Regions from separate parts of the Homo sapiens genome. Here region 2 is linked to region 1. The links come from fine-mapping of genetic effects on gene expression. Tissue or cell type: hypothalamus. Region 1 holds a variant in brackets; the other region holds the start of a gene. All regions are shown on one strand. Distances are from middle to middle.

Region 1 (8,103 bases):
TGGCTTCTGCACTCACAGGTCTAGTGCCTGGGCTGGGATGGCCTAAGGACTAGCCAGAACACCTATACATGGCCTCTCCACGTGGATTCGGCTTTTCACAACATGGCAGTTGAGTTAGAGAGAAGGCTTTCTGAGAAGGGGTCTCTAGAAAGCAAACACTATCAGAGCACCAAGGGGAAGCCACATGGCCTTTTCAGTCTTAGCCCTTCCACCATACTCTATTGGCCAAAGCAGAATCAAGAGGAAAGGTCATAGACTCCATCCCAGATAGGAAAAGTGCCAAAGAATCTAGGAGCTATGTTTTACAACCACCACACTGGCCAAGTGAATTCCTTGCTTCCAAGCTTAGAGATAATATCTAGAGTCCCCAGGGGGCTAAACATGGACTGGTCTCTAACTTGGGTGGGAGAAGAGCAGGTGCTGGGGACTCCAGCAAACTCCTCACAGTTGATTCTCAAGAGTGTGTTTGCCCTGCCCCAAGAGAGATGCCCAGAGGAGGCTCAGCCCACAGGCAGCCCTTCACAAATGAAAAGAACCCTCTTGTCACTATTACCCACCACCCCACCTTAACTGCTATTCCTCCTGAACATCTTTTCCCCTCCAAATTACCCTCCAGCAAAAAACCTGCTCCCACAAAGCACGCTGTGCATGCCAGTGTGTCTCATTGTTCCTCTATTAAGACACATCATTCACAAACACTACGCTTCTTAAAAGATACCCTCAGCTGTCACTTACATAACAGAACTTGGCAAAAACAGATGGAGCATGCCAGCGGTGTCTTTGCCTGGGGCAGTATATGCTAATATCTTGGCACAGGCACCTTGAGCTGCTTTTTTTTCCCAGCAAAGTTCCATCAGCTGGAAAGTTCGAAGGGGAGAGCAAGATCATAGAAAAGTCAGTAGAGGAAGCTGTTCCTTTTTTACCTTTGGAAAATAAAACTACCTTTTCATCAATCAAATAGTGGGAAAAATCTGTAGAGCTACTCCCCAAAACTCAGGAGAAAGGAGGAAGCTTGATGCTACCTAAAGAAAGGTATGACACACAAAAAGAAGGGACATTCGACCCAGGATGTAGGAGAAAAGGGCATTTCGGAGAGAAGGAATGACAGGCACAAAGATGGGGAGGCAGGAATGTGCCTGACTTGTTCCCAGAGCATTGAAATAGCTGGTCTACCTAGAGTGGAGGGTTTGGGCTTGGGAGTTGTAGGGGCCATTTATTATTTCGCCTTCCCAGAACAACACCCCCGCTTCATTTGGGAAAGAGCTCTACTTCCATTTGGTTCTCTATAGCCCTGGCTGGGCTAATCCTAGAGACTGATCCCTTTGACATCAGTAATTGGCCCAGGGATAGGCAAACGACCAGGCCAATCTGAGCCCATTCCAGCCCAACTGGAGTGAGTGGGAAGAGCTCTTTTCTCTCTGCTCTCAAGAGGAGGGGCAGGAGAATGCACAGGGCTAAAAGCCCAAGCTCTTCAATCAGAGTTGACTCCAGATCCCAAAGTTCTTTACCAGCTTTGTGAACTTGGGAAGGGTCCTCACTGAGGCTCCATTTCTTCATCTGTAAAATGGGGATAACAAGACCCACCTCATAGGTTCATGTCATGGATTAAATGAGATAAGCAATTCAGGTGCTTAGAATTAAGATGGCAGCCCCAGAGCTGCCCACACCGTGGTACCAACTTTAGGGTACTGGCCAGCCTGAGAGTTAAGTCAGTCCTCAAAGGAAGCAGGGATGAGAGTAAGTTAAGCAACAACCCAGGCTTCCTGCAGCTTGGTGATAGGAGTCAATGAATTTGCCTTTTCCAAATGTAAGCTGGCTTGAGTTTGATTTCTGTTCATGGCACCTAATAGTGCTTGAGTTGTATTTTTTAATGCAAAAATATACTTAGAAATACATCCACAGTGTATTTCTCTAATTATAAAATCCATCCATTGAAATAATCCTAGAGTTTTGTAACCATTCCTTTCTTGGTTTTCCTTTCCCTAAAATCAACTTGCTAAGCTCCCAAGACTACAAGTCAAGCTGGAGGAAGCACCAGGAAGGAGGAGGGACGATGGGACAGGGATATGAGTTGTGGACGTGGAGGAGAGGATTAAACAGTCCACCAGCCTTGTGGACCCCCAATTCTAAGGATCCTCTGAGCCCCTGACCTTCACTCCCCAGAACCAGTGAGAGCCCAGGTCAGAACTCAGGTTCAATATCCCAAATCATAAACAAAATCAGAGAAGCAGAATTCTCAGAAGAAACCAAATGGAAAACCCAAGAAGACAGGAAATGTCCATGTTCAGCACTGAAACTCACCATTGCCATGGGAGAATAAAAGTCATAAACATAACAGAGAAGATAATATTATAATTATTTGCAACTAGTTTTGACTCTACACCTGGAAAACCAAAGAGAATAGAGTTAAAACAAAAACAAAAACAAAACTGTTAAAATCAATAGGATAATTCGATAAGATGGCTAGCTATAAAAATGTATGTATGAGAGTCAATAGCTTGCTACATACACACAACTGATTGGAAAATAAAATGAAAGAAAAAAATCCCATTTAAAAAGCCGCAATCAGCTGGGAGCTGTGGCTCACACCTGTAATCCCAGCACTTTGGGAGGCTGAGGTGGGCGGATCACCTGAGGTCAGGAGTTCAAGACCAGCCTGGCCAACATGACAAAACCCTGTCTCTACTAAAAATACAAAAATTAGCTGGGCGTGGTGGCAGACACCTGTAATCCCAGCTACTCGAAAAGCTGAGGCACGAGAATCGCTTGAACACAGGAGGTGGAGGATGCAGTGAGCAAAGATCGCACCACTGCACTCCAGCCTGGGCAACAAAGCAAGACACTGTCTCAAAAAAAAAAGGTAGCAATTCAAAAAAGTAAAAACAAACAAAAAGGCTACATACAGATACACCTAATAAGAAATGTACGGAATCTACATGAAGAAAAAATGTTTAATTTTTTTTTTTCTCCTAGACAGGGTCTTACTTTATTGCCCAGGCTGGAATGCAGAGGCATGATCTCAGCTCACTGCAGCCTTTACTACCCAGGCTCAAGTGATCCTCCCACCTCAGCCTCCTGCATAGCTAGGACTATACTATATGTGCATGCCACCATGCCCAGGTAATTTTTGTATTTTTTGGTTTTGCCATGTTGCCCAGGCTGGTCTCGAACTCCTGGGCTCAAGCAATTCACCCACCTCTGCCTCCCAAAGTGCTGGGATTACAGGTGTGTGCCACCACACCCAGCAGAAACATTTTTAAATTCTAATGAGGACCTTATATAAATTTTTAAAGACCAGCAAATGATAAGGCAGAATGGGAGAATAGACATACAGTACTGGAGAATAGAGATCAGAGGAATCAGATAAAAGAGAAGCATGGAAGAGAGGCAGAAAGACAAAACCTGTCATTTTTCTTGGGCCAGTGAGAGTGGGGGGGCTTCAGGTGCTTTCCCAGAGGACCCATGGTCTGGGCGCTAGTGGGGAGGAACTGACCTGCATGGCCACCATGAATCCCTTAGGCACCCCTCCTCCCCTGGGGTCATGTTGCACTCCAGGCCGCCAAAATTTAGGGGCAGACTGGAGACTGAGTAAGCCAGCCAAGGTGGCCACTGGGCGGCAGAGACATTGCTGTTGGCAAAAGCAGCACTCCATCCCAGCTGATGAAAATCAGAACCCCCATCTCAGATCCCAATTTACAGAGCATTTGCACTTTCATGAGCCTATATCTTGCTCACAACTTCCCTGAGAGAGAAGAAATCCAGGGCAAATATCCCTGTGCCTAGCTTCCTGAAGATCAACTTGGATTTTGTATTAGTCCATTCCCACACTGCTATAAAAAACTACCTGAAACTGGGTAATTTATAAAGAAAAGAGGTTTAATTGACTCACAGTTCCGCCTGGCTAGGGAGGCCCCAGAAAACTTACAATCATGGAGGAAGGCAAAGGGGAAGCAGGCACCTTTTTCACAAGGCGGCAGGAGAGACAGAGCAAGCGGGGAAGTGCCACACTTTTAAACCATCAAATCTCATAAGAACTTACTCACTATCACGAGAACAGCATGGGGAAAATCTGCCCCCATGATCCAATCACCTCCCTGATCAAGTACCTCCCCCTGACAAGTGGGGATTACAATTCGAGATGAGATTTGGGTGCGGACACAGCAAAACCACATCAGATACCCGGGTCACATGTGGGTCCTTGGGTGGCAGACCTTTTCAAAGGAATAATTTTAAGGTTTTCAAGTGTATACATCCTGCTTGAATATCAAATTGGTTTTTTAAAAATTGTATTTCAGTAGCATTAGGGGTACAAGTGGTTTTGGATTACATGGGTGAATCATATTCAAGTTGTTTTAAATGAGAGCAGGACAAGAATTAGAATCTTGCAATCCATGGCAGTTCTTTCTCCACAACACTCAGTAGATACCTTGATATATGCATACTCGTTTGTTTGATATGAAACATATGAGGGGAAGATAGGAGAGGAATCTCTCATTCTGATTCAGTTGCCTGAAAATCCTTGCCTTAGCTCATTCCTTTGAGCCGAAGGTATTGAAGCCCTCCTTTAAAATGCAAATATCATCTAGGAAGAGTGACACATAAATCATTGTCTTTCATTAGTCCCACAGACCAGAGCACTTTATCAATCACTAATTTTTCTCCATGCTACTCAAGAGAACGCTAACGTGGAACGTGTCTAGACTCACTGAGTGGGGTGGGGTTGCAGCTGGCAGGACACCTGTGTTCTGGCCTCTGTGTTTTCACTCTCGAAACAAGGAGGGATGGATTTGATGATCTTTGAAATCCTGAGGCTCAATGCCCCCCACTATAGCCTGAATGTGTCCTTGCAAAATTCATAGGTTGAAAGCTAATCAA[C/T]GATGTGATGTGTTAAGACATGGGGCCTGTTTAGGGGGTGATTAAGCTCTCATGGGTGGGATTAGTGGCCTTATAAAAGAGGTATAAGGAAGCTGTTCACCCCTTCTGTTGATCTCAGATCTCTCAACCTCCGGAACTGTGAAAAATAAATTTCTGTTGTTTATAGATTACGCATCCCAAAGAATCTTGTCATAGCAACCCAAGTGGATGAAGAGACCCCCACATCCATCGGAGGGTGAACTCTAACTCATACATGTGTCTTGGGGATGCCGGCACAATAAAGTCTCGCCTCGTCCCATCTCTGTTTGGCATTTGAATCCAAATCTCTTTGTTCTGTTAGGCAACTGTTTGGGGCTTTTTATTCATTTGACAGGTGGATCTTTTTGAAGTTCTCATTTAAAATAATTTGATATTCAAGCTGTATGTGTGTGGTTGAAAGTCATAAAATTATTCATCTGAAAGACCTCTCCTTTTCTCTCAGATACCAACTGAAGTTTGCAGCAGTTCCCCCGAGCAAAGCTCGCTGCCTAGAAAGCTCTTTTTCAGCAACGCTCTGCCATCATCACTAAATTGAGTTATTCCAACAGCCTTTGATGCTCTGTTTTTTTTCCTAAGTGTGCATATGAAAGCTGAACAGCAACATAATTTAATTCTTCAAGATTTACTTTTTAATCACCAGGGTGATTCTTGTGGGGTACAGAGAGTTGACCCCGTTTTCTCAAGTTGAAATTGATTTAGGTCAAACAATTCTTGGAATTTGAATTAGATATTTTTCTCCTTATCGGCATGAACTTCAAGCTTCATTTTCCAACAGCTGGAAACATCTGTGCTACCCATGAATTACAGACGATTTGAGAAAACTAAATGTGGGCAAAGAAGATATTCACAACTCACAGAATTCTATCGGCAGAATTCTTCATAATGAGCTGAATTGGTGTTGAAGTACAATTGTGTTAGGTGTCTGAGTTCCTTTTATGAAAGAAAAATGAGACAATTACCAAGGACTAAGAATGCAATCAAAATAATACAACCATTTTACTGTTGAATAAGAAATCTTTCTATAAACACTATGGCATATTATTCCAGAATAAAAATATTTACCAGGAGGGGATTCTACTGAGAATTGTACCATGGAAAGTTAAGAGGCTTCTTCCCCCTAACTCAAATGTGCACCCACAGCATTATTGTCTGATTATGTAGTCAATGAACAAGGAACAAATATGTCTATCTAGAATAAAGCACCCTGTTTACATCAAGGTATTTCTTCACACAGGGATTGAATTTGAATACATAAATATTTCCATATGATTTGTTAATTACCTTTAGTAATAAATGTACTTAGATCCTCCCAATGCAAAAAGAATCTCTGAACAGTCAACTGATTAAAGAAAAAAAGCAGGGGATAGATTAGCTTGGAAATCAAAGAGGTAAGACAAAGCATCTTGGGTGAGCAACCGATAACTCCACTCCTCAGCTGCTTGCAGACTCATACCTTCATTTATTTGACCATCTGGGCACTCAATGAATTAAAGTCCACAGCTGTCCAGCCCTCCTCTCATACTCCCAGTTTAGGATGTTTTGGGAAGACAGGGAAGGGCTAGGGGTGGATCCCCAGGCCTGAGGCCCGTGAGGATGTCAATTTCAGGGAAGTTCTAGGGATTCCCGCTAGACTAGGGTTTCATGAGAGCTTTGATCTCCCCACTAAGCCAACAAAAAACATCTGCAGCAGGACAGAGAAGACTGAGACACCCTTATATCAATTCAGTAAATACTTCCTGAGCACTGATTATGCTTAACTCTATGGGGACTCCAGATCAAGGATTCAGGCATGAGGTGACACAAGTCGAGTTCCAACACATATCAGGCACTTGATATTTACTGAATGAAGGGTTGGTTGAAGAAGAGGGCAGTGTGAATGGAGAACAGAAAATATTTAGTAATATTAGTAATCGCACAGAAAATATTTGAGGACTTGATAACTGTCTGGGTGGAGAAAAGAAAGAGAAGGGAAATTGAACTGTGGCCCCAAAGGTTTCTCACCCAGGGACCAATGTAACAGGAATACCAAAGGTGCAAATAGGGACATTGGAGGAAAGAAGGACATTCTGGTGGAGACCGCAGCCTACCTGTCCTCAGAGAGGACTTGTTCAGAGCTGGCACAAACCGCTCCAGGATGGTTTCCCTTGGAGAGCTGAAATTGGAGGTCCAAGATACCGAACTGTAGAAACAGATTCTCCAGTTGGGGGTCTCATTAAAGGCCTATATTTCAACCACCAATATGATCCATTAATTTCTGGCTTATGCTACCCAAATCTTCCTTACATGGGCCCCAAACCTGTTTCTCTGTAATTACTCAGATTAAAATTTTCAGAATTTAACATTTCCATCTTTTTCAATTTATTTGCCCATGGTGCTTAAAAACACATTCTCCGGTCTTTATGCTCTCATCTAATTTCACCCGGTCTCCTCCCTCCATAGAAATAGCTACTGACATTCGCTTTGCCTTCCTGAGACTTGGCAGACCTGCTTTCTTTCTCATTCAGGAGGCATGAAGGTATCTGATGCCTGGGAAGGGAAGCCAGTCGTGGGTTCAGGCTTAACCAAACTGCATCCGTTGCGTACAACTGGTGTAAATGATCTAAATTGCTCTGATGTTGTGTGACTCCCCAGATGCCATGCACTGATTAAGAGTCTGCCTGTTTCTTCTGGGAACCCCCATCCCAGAGTCAGAGGGTTGCAGTATCACGGGGCAGGGATCGTACGGCCATGGGATGGGGCAGTCACTCAACTGACCCAGTGACTCGTCTCTGTGGCCGTGCACAGATGGAAGAGCAAAAGGAAGCCGGGCGGAAGCCAGAGGACGCTTCCTGCTGAAGCTTCTTCCTGAATATAAAAATGCCCAGAGGTATCCTCATTCGAAAAATGCTTTGCCGGGCGCGGAAGCTCACGCCTGTAACCCCAGTGCTTTGGAAGGCCGAGGCGGGTGGATCACAAGGTCAGGAGATCGAGACCATCCTGGCTAACACGGTGAAACCCCATCTCTACTAAAAATACAAAAAATTAGCTGGGCGTGGTGGCGGGCGCCTGTAGTCCCAGCTACTTAGGATGCTGAGGCAGGAGAATAGCTTGAACCTGGGAGGCGCAGGTTGCAGTGAGCCGAGATTGCGACACTGCACTCCAGCCCAGGCAACAGAGCAAGACTCCGTCTCAAAAAAAAAACAAGAAAGA
Region 2 (8,103 bases), 280 kb after region 1:
GATCCCTAGTCATCCCTTGACTTTGCCACCTGAACTCCAAATCCATCACCATTCCCTTACCCAGAGGTGACCATTATCCTTCCAAACCTGTTTCTATCCATTTACATATGTATTTATATAACATCTAGAAATATAAATTTAGCTCATTGTGTGAGTTTTATCTAAAGGCCCTCACCTTACATTCTAGAAATTGCTTTTTTTTTTCACTCAACAGTATATTTGGAATTCTTTTCTGTAACAATTCCTAAAGACTGACCTTTTTTTTTTTTTTATGAACTGCTACACAGCACTTTAAAATACTGTGTCTCAAGCATTCAAATCATCTAGGAATCTTGTTAACATGCAGATGCTGATTCTATAACTCTAGGGTAAGCCCTGAGGTTCTGCATTTCTAAAAAGCTCCCAGATGTTATTGACATTGCTGGTCAACAGATCACACATTTAGTAGCAAAGATGTACAGTACGGGTGGAATAGTGTGCTGGGGCCAACTTGGACAAGCTCATGAGAACTGATTGTCAAATTTCCAGGAATTTGGTGAGCTTGTTGTTAAACACAGCAATCATTAAAAAAAACTAAATTATATACACTTACAATTAAATAAATTATATTACAGATAATGAAAACCAAAAATCCATCACCTTTCCAAACATTTTACTGCCTTCTTAAATCTATGCTGTTGATGTTATTTCTATCCATTGTGTCTGCATGGTGGAAATCTACATAATGGCATGCTTCCGCACAGCTCTTCCCAACTCCCTTCAGTGACATCATCTCGACAGCTTGAAATCGGCCACGGGGAACATTTACACCACAGAAATTTGGGTATAAAGGTCTGTGCAAACATACCCCCAAAGTTCAGGGAAGCTGAAAAGCCGACGAAAGAGGCTGACATATACAGTCTCTCAGAAAGAAACATTTCATAGGGACTTATGAATAGAGGCCATAGTTTCAGAGATGAAATGGTGGATTACCCTGCAAACCCAGGGCTTACATACCATAGGGAAACAATGTGTCAAACAATTGAAGTTGACCCCTCAGGCAAAGTCATGAATGCTATGTGAATCTGTCTAAGCGCAGGATTTATGGTAATAGTAGGTAAAGTAGAAAACTTAGAGTCATTCCTGGAACAGGTTGTTGAAAAGTCAACATGGCAGATTAGCTTCCCAGATGGAGTTGCTTTAGCCTCCAGAAAATGCTTGCATTACCCCAAGCCTTCTCCAACACTTGATATTACCCATCTTTTCCATTTTTGTTAATCTGCTCAATAAAAAGAAAAAGTATCTCATTTTTATTATTTATTAATTTTTTTTTTGAGTTGGAGTCTCGCACTTGTTGCCTGGGCTGGAGTGCAATGGCACGATCTCGGCTCACTGCAACCTCTGCCTCCCGGGTTCAAGCAGTTCTCCTGCCTCAGTCTCCTGAGTAGCTGGGATTACAAGTGCACACCACCATGTCCAGCTAATTTTTTGTATTTTTAGCCAGGCTAGTCTCAAACTCCTGACCTCGTGATCCACCCGCCTTTGCCTCCCAAAGTGCTGGGATTACAGGCATGAGCCACCACGCCCAACTGTTATCTCATTTTTAACTTGCATTTTCCTGTTTAAAGTGAGATTAGGTGTCTCATATGTTCATGACTAGAAATTTAACAATATTTCTTGCTCTTGTAAATATAGCCCTTTTACTTTTTTCTTTTTTACCCAAACCAAAAATGGTCAATAAGAACCTTTTTACTTTTATATTTTCTAGGTGATTATTGTACAAGAAAGTCAGTGTTTTTTAAATTAGGCTACCCTTCCTACCAGTTCTAATAATAGCTTGATCGTTTATTTTCTTGGGGATTCTAGATAATCATATAATCTATAAATAATGACCAATTTTACTTTTGCACATATAGAATTGTTAATTTTGTTTTGTGGTACTGGCTCTGACTACAGCTCCACATTGTCTAGCAGCAGTAATAGCTCATCAATGTCTCACTTCTGATTTGAATAGGAACACTTCTGTATTTCCCTCCCAAAATGCTGGGATGACAGGCGTGAGCCACCACTCCCGGCTCACTTTCTAAGTTATGCATTTTGGTGATGTTTGAATCTCTTACTCAAGCATGTACTCTTTTCTGTGATCAGAAAGAACATTAAAGGTGGTTCCTTATTCAGGTTGTCTCCTTCCCTTATACATTGTAGCCTTGTTTCGGCCCTTTCACTGTCCTCCTTGAATGTGTCCCCTCCCCAGGAGGTAGAGGACAAGAATGCTCTCTCCATGTCCTGCTCAGCATTGAGCTTTATACATAATTTTATTTATTTATTTATTGAGACAGAATCTCACTCTGTCGCCCAGGCTGGAGTGCAGTGGCACGATCTCAGCTCACTGCAACCTCCACCTCCCGGGTTCAAGCGATTCTCTTGCCTCAGCCTCCCAAGTAGCTGCTGGGATTACAGGCACGTGCCACTACACCCGGCTAATTTTTGTATTTTTTGTAGAGACGGGGTTTCACCATGTTGGTCAGACTGGTCACGAACTCCTGACCTCAAGTGATCTACCCGCCTCGGCCTCCCAAAGTGCTGGGATTACAGGCGTGAGCCACTGCGCCAGGCCCATAATGGTATTTCAACAAACGGTTAGGGAATGCCATGAATTTAAGCCAGCACCTAGTGGGTGAATTCTTGAAAACTCCCCTGCCATATCTACTAGTTTGAAGTGAGGGCTGCAGGACCTTTCCAGCCTCTCCCCATCCCACCCTGTCACTCCCCACCCCAGGTATATAAACGGCAGGTTGCTCCATAAACCTGTGATCTCTGGAATTTTGTTTGAACCCCTGGTAGCTGGGCCCTGTTTTGGATCTAGAGGCCACCAAGAGTCCTGATCAGTTCCTGCAGCTAGGAAGGTGCATGGGGTTTAAACGTGCTACTCACTACTCCTGACATGGGAATACTGGAACTGCCAATAATGTGGAATTTGTTTTTCTGTTGTTTTTAACAAATGGAAAGGGCACAGATATCAGAGTCAAATCCCAGATCCACCCAAACAGCTATGTGATCTTGGGCAAGTCAACTTCTGTGTCCCTTGTGGACCTCCCGTGTAACATAACACTTACCAAAGCGCATAGAAAAAGGTCCAGAAAAGATCTGAGAGAAGGCTGTAGGGTTGTTCCAGGCCTCTGCAATCAAACTGATGGAGTTCAAACCCCACCTGTGCCGTTTATTACCTCGACGGATCACTAGTCTCCGTATCTCAGCTTTCTCTGTTCATGCATAAACTGGGGACAGTAAGAGTACATAGTTGATGGGGCAGTTGTGAAGATTAAACGAGGTAACAGGCCAATCTTTATCATAAAGCTAAAGCTCACCGTGAGCGCCCCATGGACATTAGCCTTATTGCTTTTATTGTCACAAAGGTGGCTGTGGCGAGAGACAGCACTTTGTACCGTACCCGTCGGACCCGGTGAGCTGGAGGGGCGAGCTTTTTATTGGCCTCGAGGCCCGGGGCACGGGGAGGCGGGCCGTCCGCGGCTGTCCTAGCACCTCCGCGGCAGCAGAGGGCCCTGGCGGCGGCTGCGGGTCGCGCGGCGTGGGTGACGGGGGTGCAGGGCGGGGCCTAACGAGCAGCCCCCGCAGGGGCGGAGACGAGGGCGGGCCGGAGGCGGAGGCGCGGCCTGGAGAGGGATGGGGCGGAAGCGGGGCGGGCGGTGCAGCCTAGCGAGGGGCGGGGCGGACGAGGAAGCGTGACGAGCGGCGGGGCGGGTGGAGCAGCCTGGCGAGGAGCGGGGCGGGGTGGGCGGCACGGCCTGACAAGGGGCGGGGAGCGCAAGGAGGCCTGACGAAGGGCGGGGCGGAGCAAGGGCGGGGGCAGGGCGAGTAGTGGGGTACAGCGAGGGCCGGAGCGGATGGGGGAAACCTGGTGAGGGGCGGGACAAAGCGGGGAGGGCGGTGCAGCCTGGCGAGAGGCGGGGCGGACGAGGAAGCTTGACGAGGGGCGGGGCGGGCGGTGCAGCCCTGCGAGGGGCAGGGCGGGCGGTGCTTCCTGGCGAGGGGCGGGGCGGGGCGGGCGGTGCGGCCAAGCTAGGGGCGGGGCAAGGGCGGGGCAAGGCGGGTGGTGGTGCCCAGCGAGGGGCGGAGCGGACAGGGTAAGCCCGCCGAGGGGCGGGGCTGACCGAGGTGGGCGGGGCGGATGCCGAGGGGCGGGGAGAGGTGGGCGGGGAGGCCAAACATGGGGCGGGGCGGCGCGGCCGGGGAAGCGTGATGAAGGCCTACGAGTGCGGCGCGGCCTGAAGGGGCACGCGGGGGACCTGCAAAGCTAGTGAGGGGCGGGGCAGGCGGCGCGGTGGGGGCGGGCCGAGCCCGGAGGCCAGATGAGCGGACACAGCCCCACGCGCGGGGCCATGCAGGTAAGTGGCTCCCGACGGCCCCACTTGAATTTCGATCCCAGACCGGGTCCGGCGCCCTCCGGGGCCCAAGCTTAGCGCGGTGCTGCAGTGGGGCCGCCTGACCCAAAGCGAAACCGAAAGCCCCGCGGAGGGTGACCTGACGACTTTCCCGGGACTGGAAGGGGGAGTCCTGCGAGAGACTAGGTGGGTGCGAGAGAGGAGTCAGGGTGCTCCTTGGGGTACAGGGCTTTGGCTCCGGGCTGGGTACGCGCACGTGATGCAGGCCGCCTCAGAGTATGGGGCCCGCTTGGGATCCCGGAGTTTGGGAGCAGAACAGGATTTCCTAGCTGGGCAGGGACATGGGGGCGGGACTTAGGGAGTCGGGCTAAAGTTCGGATTAAGGGGCGGGCCTGGCTCATGATCCTGGGCCGGCGGGCTGAAGCTTTCAACGGAGTTTCAGCCCTGGGTTTGGGTCTCTCGGTGGGGACGGGCGGAAGCAGAGGTCTGTGCCTTAGAGTGGTCACTTCTGGGGGTGGGGATGGGAGAATCCTCGGAACCTGGGTGAAAGGTCAGGGGTCCCAGACCTTGTAAAAGTCTGAGCATCCCCCTCCCCTAGGTGGCCATGAACGGTAAGGCCCGCAAAGAGGCGGTGCAGACTGCGGCTAAGGAACTCCTCAAGTTCGTGAACCGGAGTCCCTCTCCTTTCCATGGTAAGCGGTGGCCAGGGCAAGGGAGGAGGGTGGAGGCTGATGCGCCCTTCACCAGCTTCCATCGCTGTGAGAGGGTGCTTTTCCCACAGCTGTGGCTGAATGCCGCAACCGCCTTCTCCAGGCTGGCTTCAGTGAACTCAAGGAGACTGAGAAATGGAATATTAAGCCCGAGAGCAAGGTACTGGGGGTGGGGTGGGGGTGGAAAGGCAGGTCCCTAGGCTGGTCTCCAAGCCCTGTGTGCCAGCTGAGTAATGCAACTCACACCCCTGTCTTTCCTCCCCTTCTCCTCAGTACTTCATGACCAGGAACTCCTCCACCATCATAGCTTTTGCTGTAGGGGGCCAGTACGTTCCTGGCAATGGCTTCAGCCTCATCGGGGCCCACACGGACAGCCCCTGCCTCCGGGTAAGGAACTCGGACGGTGTTGGGGTGGGAGGAGATGTCAGAGGGAGTACAGGGCAAAAGAGAACTAGGAGGTACAAACTGGGGCCTCTATCCCCTGGAGTAAGGGAGAAGGTAAACTTGTTGGCCCCTTCCTTCACACCTTGAGCCTTTCATGTGACACTAATATTCGCTGTCTGTTACTTATGAGTAGCCAAAGTCTCATCTCCACATATCGTCATGAAGCCTTCTCTGACTTCTCCATCTTTACACTCAGGTGAAACGTCGGTCTCGCCGCAGCCAGGTGGGCTTCCAGCAAGTCGGTGTGGAGACCTATGGTGGTGGGATCTGGAGCACCTGGTTTGACCGTGACCTGACTCTGGCTGGACGCGTCATTGTCAAGGTGGGAACCGAGGTTGGGGATGGCGGAGCCTCCTCAGAAGACTGACTGCCACACTCCTCAGGGTACCCGTGGGGAAGAGGGGTGGGGGCAGTCTGGTCAGAGGACCACCCTGCTTAGTCTGAGTGAAGTAAAGACTGACCACTGGGGTAGGAGGCACCCTGGGCTGACCTGGCCTGGCTGGCTGCAGTGCCCTACCTCAGGTCGGCTGGAGCAGCAGCTGGTGCACGTGGAGCGGCCCATTCTTCGCATCCCACACCTGGCCATCCATCTGCAGCGAAATATCAACGAGAACTTTGGGCCCAACACAGAGATGCATCTGTGAGACTGGGGCAGGGCTGCGGTGGCTGGGAGGGATGGAGAATGGTACCAGGTGATTATTACCTAATGGTAGCCATTAGGTCACATTTTACTCTTGGGACCCAGTTAATTTCTAAGGGTCCTCACAGCCTTGTGATTTGGGGAGTGGGCTGGGAATTGAAGGGCAGAGGCAGTTGCCCATCAGGAGGCACCTGAACTTATGGATGCCGCACTCAGCTGTGCCCTCCTCGCAATCCCCCCACAACCCACGTCTCCCCACAGAGTCCCCATTCTTGCCACAGCCATCCAGGAGGAGCTGGAGAAGGGGACTCCTGAGCCAGGGCCTCTCAATGCTGTGGTAAGAGAGTCTCCTGATCATGGGGAGGGCGGCAGAGTCCCCTGAGAAGTGGGGAGGAGAGGAGGAATGGACTCTTCCCAGCATCTTTCTGCTCTTCAGGATGAGCGGCACCATTCGGTCCTCATGTCCCTGCTCTGTGCCCATCTGGGGCTGAGCCCCAAGGACATAGTGGAGATGGAGCTCTGCCTTGCAGACACCCAGCCTGCGGTGAGGACTGGCTGTAGGAACCTGTGGGTGAAGGGCCTCCAGGATCCTGGCCACCCCTAGCCCGTCCTGCTGAAGCACCCATCACCTCCACCAAGCCCTCAGTAACTCTCATCCCCGTTTTTCCCAGTAGACACATCCCCCACTGCTTCTAGGGCGGTGGTTCTCAAAAAGACAAGTTCCCTACCCCAGACCTGCCCACTAGGACTATCTGGGAATTGGCCCTTTTTACAGATTCCCAAAGAGTTTCTTCTACAGGTGGGCCCTGTCTGCTTTGACCCACACTGACACTGAACTGCTTAGGGAAAGAGGCCTGGATGTGGCCATCTGTTCTCTGTCTCCCGGTTGCTGATGGTCAGAGATTGCTAAATCTTTGGATGCTGTGTCCTGCTTGAACACGTACTAAGTTTCTGTTTTTTGGCTGGTTTCCTCTGTTTACTTCTTTGGCCTTTTTGATGACAATTCAGCCCTTCCTTTTCTTGACCCACAGGAAGAGGTCAAGAGCTATTGGCCTCCACCCTTTTGTTCCTCAGCACCAACCCAGCCCCCTTCTCCAATCTCTGCTTGGTCCTGCCTAGCAAGGAATCCCAGCACTTTGGGAGGCTGAGGCGGGGGGAATCACATGAGGTCAGGAGTTCGAGACTAGCCTGACCACCATGGTGAAACCCTGTCTCTAATAAAAATACAAAAATTAGCTGGGCCTGGTGGTGCATGCCTGTAATCCCAGCTACTCAGGAGGCTGAGGCACGAGAATCCTTTGAACCCGGGAGGCGGAAGTTGCAGTGAGCCGAGATCGAGCCATTGCACTTCAGACTGGGCGACAAGAGCGAACCTTCATCTCAAAAAAAAGAAAAAACAAAATAGTGCCCTAAGCCAGGGGTCAGGGAGAGGTTGCGCAAGAAACCAAGGAGACCCTTGGGAGCAAAAGAAAGGTGAGTGGGGGTGGAGGGTTGAAGGTCGGGCTGACTGTCTTACCTCTCTAGGTCTTGGGTGGTGCCTATGATGAGTTCATCTTTGCTCCTCGGCTGGACAATCTGCACAGCTGCTTCTGTGCCCTGCAGGTGAGGAGCCGGGGCGCCCCAGGCAGCACATAACCACCAGCAGAGGTGGTATGTTTGGGGTCGGGGGAGCTGCCTAAAGCCCCAGCAGGTTGTGAGAGAGGGCCATTGTCTACCCGCTCAGTCTGCTGGTGCTGGATGGACCAGGAGGGGGCCCTAAATGTTGCAGCCTCAGCATCGCCACCTTTGGTCTCTGCCCTTGCACTATCAGGGTGTTGAGGCAAGAAGAAGGAGGAGAAGTTGTTTCAGGCACCATGGTCTCTTGTCCTAGCCTTGCTCCTGCTGCTTTTCCTGAAGTTAACAACCTCTGCCTCAGGGAAAGGCTTTA

The links. PIP is the estimated chance that this variant, and not a neighbour inherited with it, causes the effect.
Region 2: it holds the start of DNPEP, and the variant in region 1 is fine-mapped to the expression of DNPEP in hypothalamus (GTEx, PIP 0.95).

What each region holds. Positions count from the first base shown.
Region 1 is chr2:219,668,033-219,676,135 of GRCh38, reverse strand. No RefSeq gene overlaps it. Among named protein-coding and RNA genes, the nearest start is that of SLC4A3, 44 kb to the right of the region's middle. RefSeq lists an enhancer at 3,051-3,551. The variant C/T (reference allele first, on the strand shown) is at 4,876.
Region 2 is chr2:219,384,041-219,392,143 of GRCh38, reverse strand. DNPEP (aspartyl aminopeptidase) reads left to right here and starts at 4,232. Exons shown (of 15, transcript NM_012100.4): 1 at 4,232-4,385; 2 at 4,981-5,074; 3 at 5,164-5,252; 4 at 5,366-5,479; 5 at 5,733-5,858; 6 at 6,046-6,176; 7 at 6,438-6,513; 8 at 6,613-6,720; 9 at 7,701-7,778. The coding sequence starts at 4,350. It overlaps DNPEP-AS1 (DNPEP antisense RNA 1), which reads right to left and starts at 3,574. Exons shown (of 4, transcript NR_183823.1): 1 at 3,348-3,574; 2 at 3,096-3,257. RefSeq lists silencers at 3,431-3,580, 3,661-4,180, 4,201-4,440 and an enhancer at 4,705-5,551.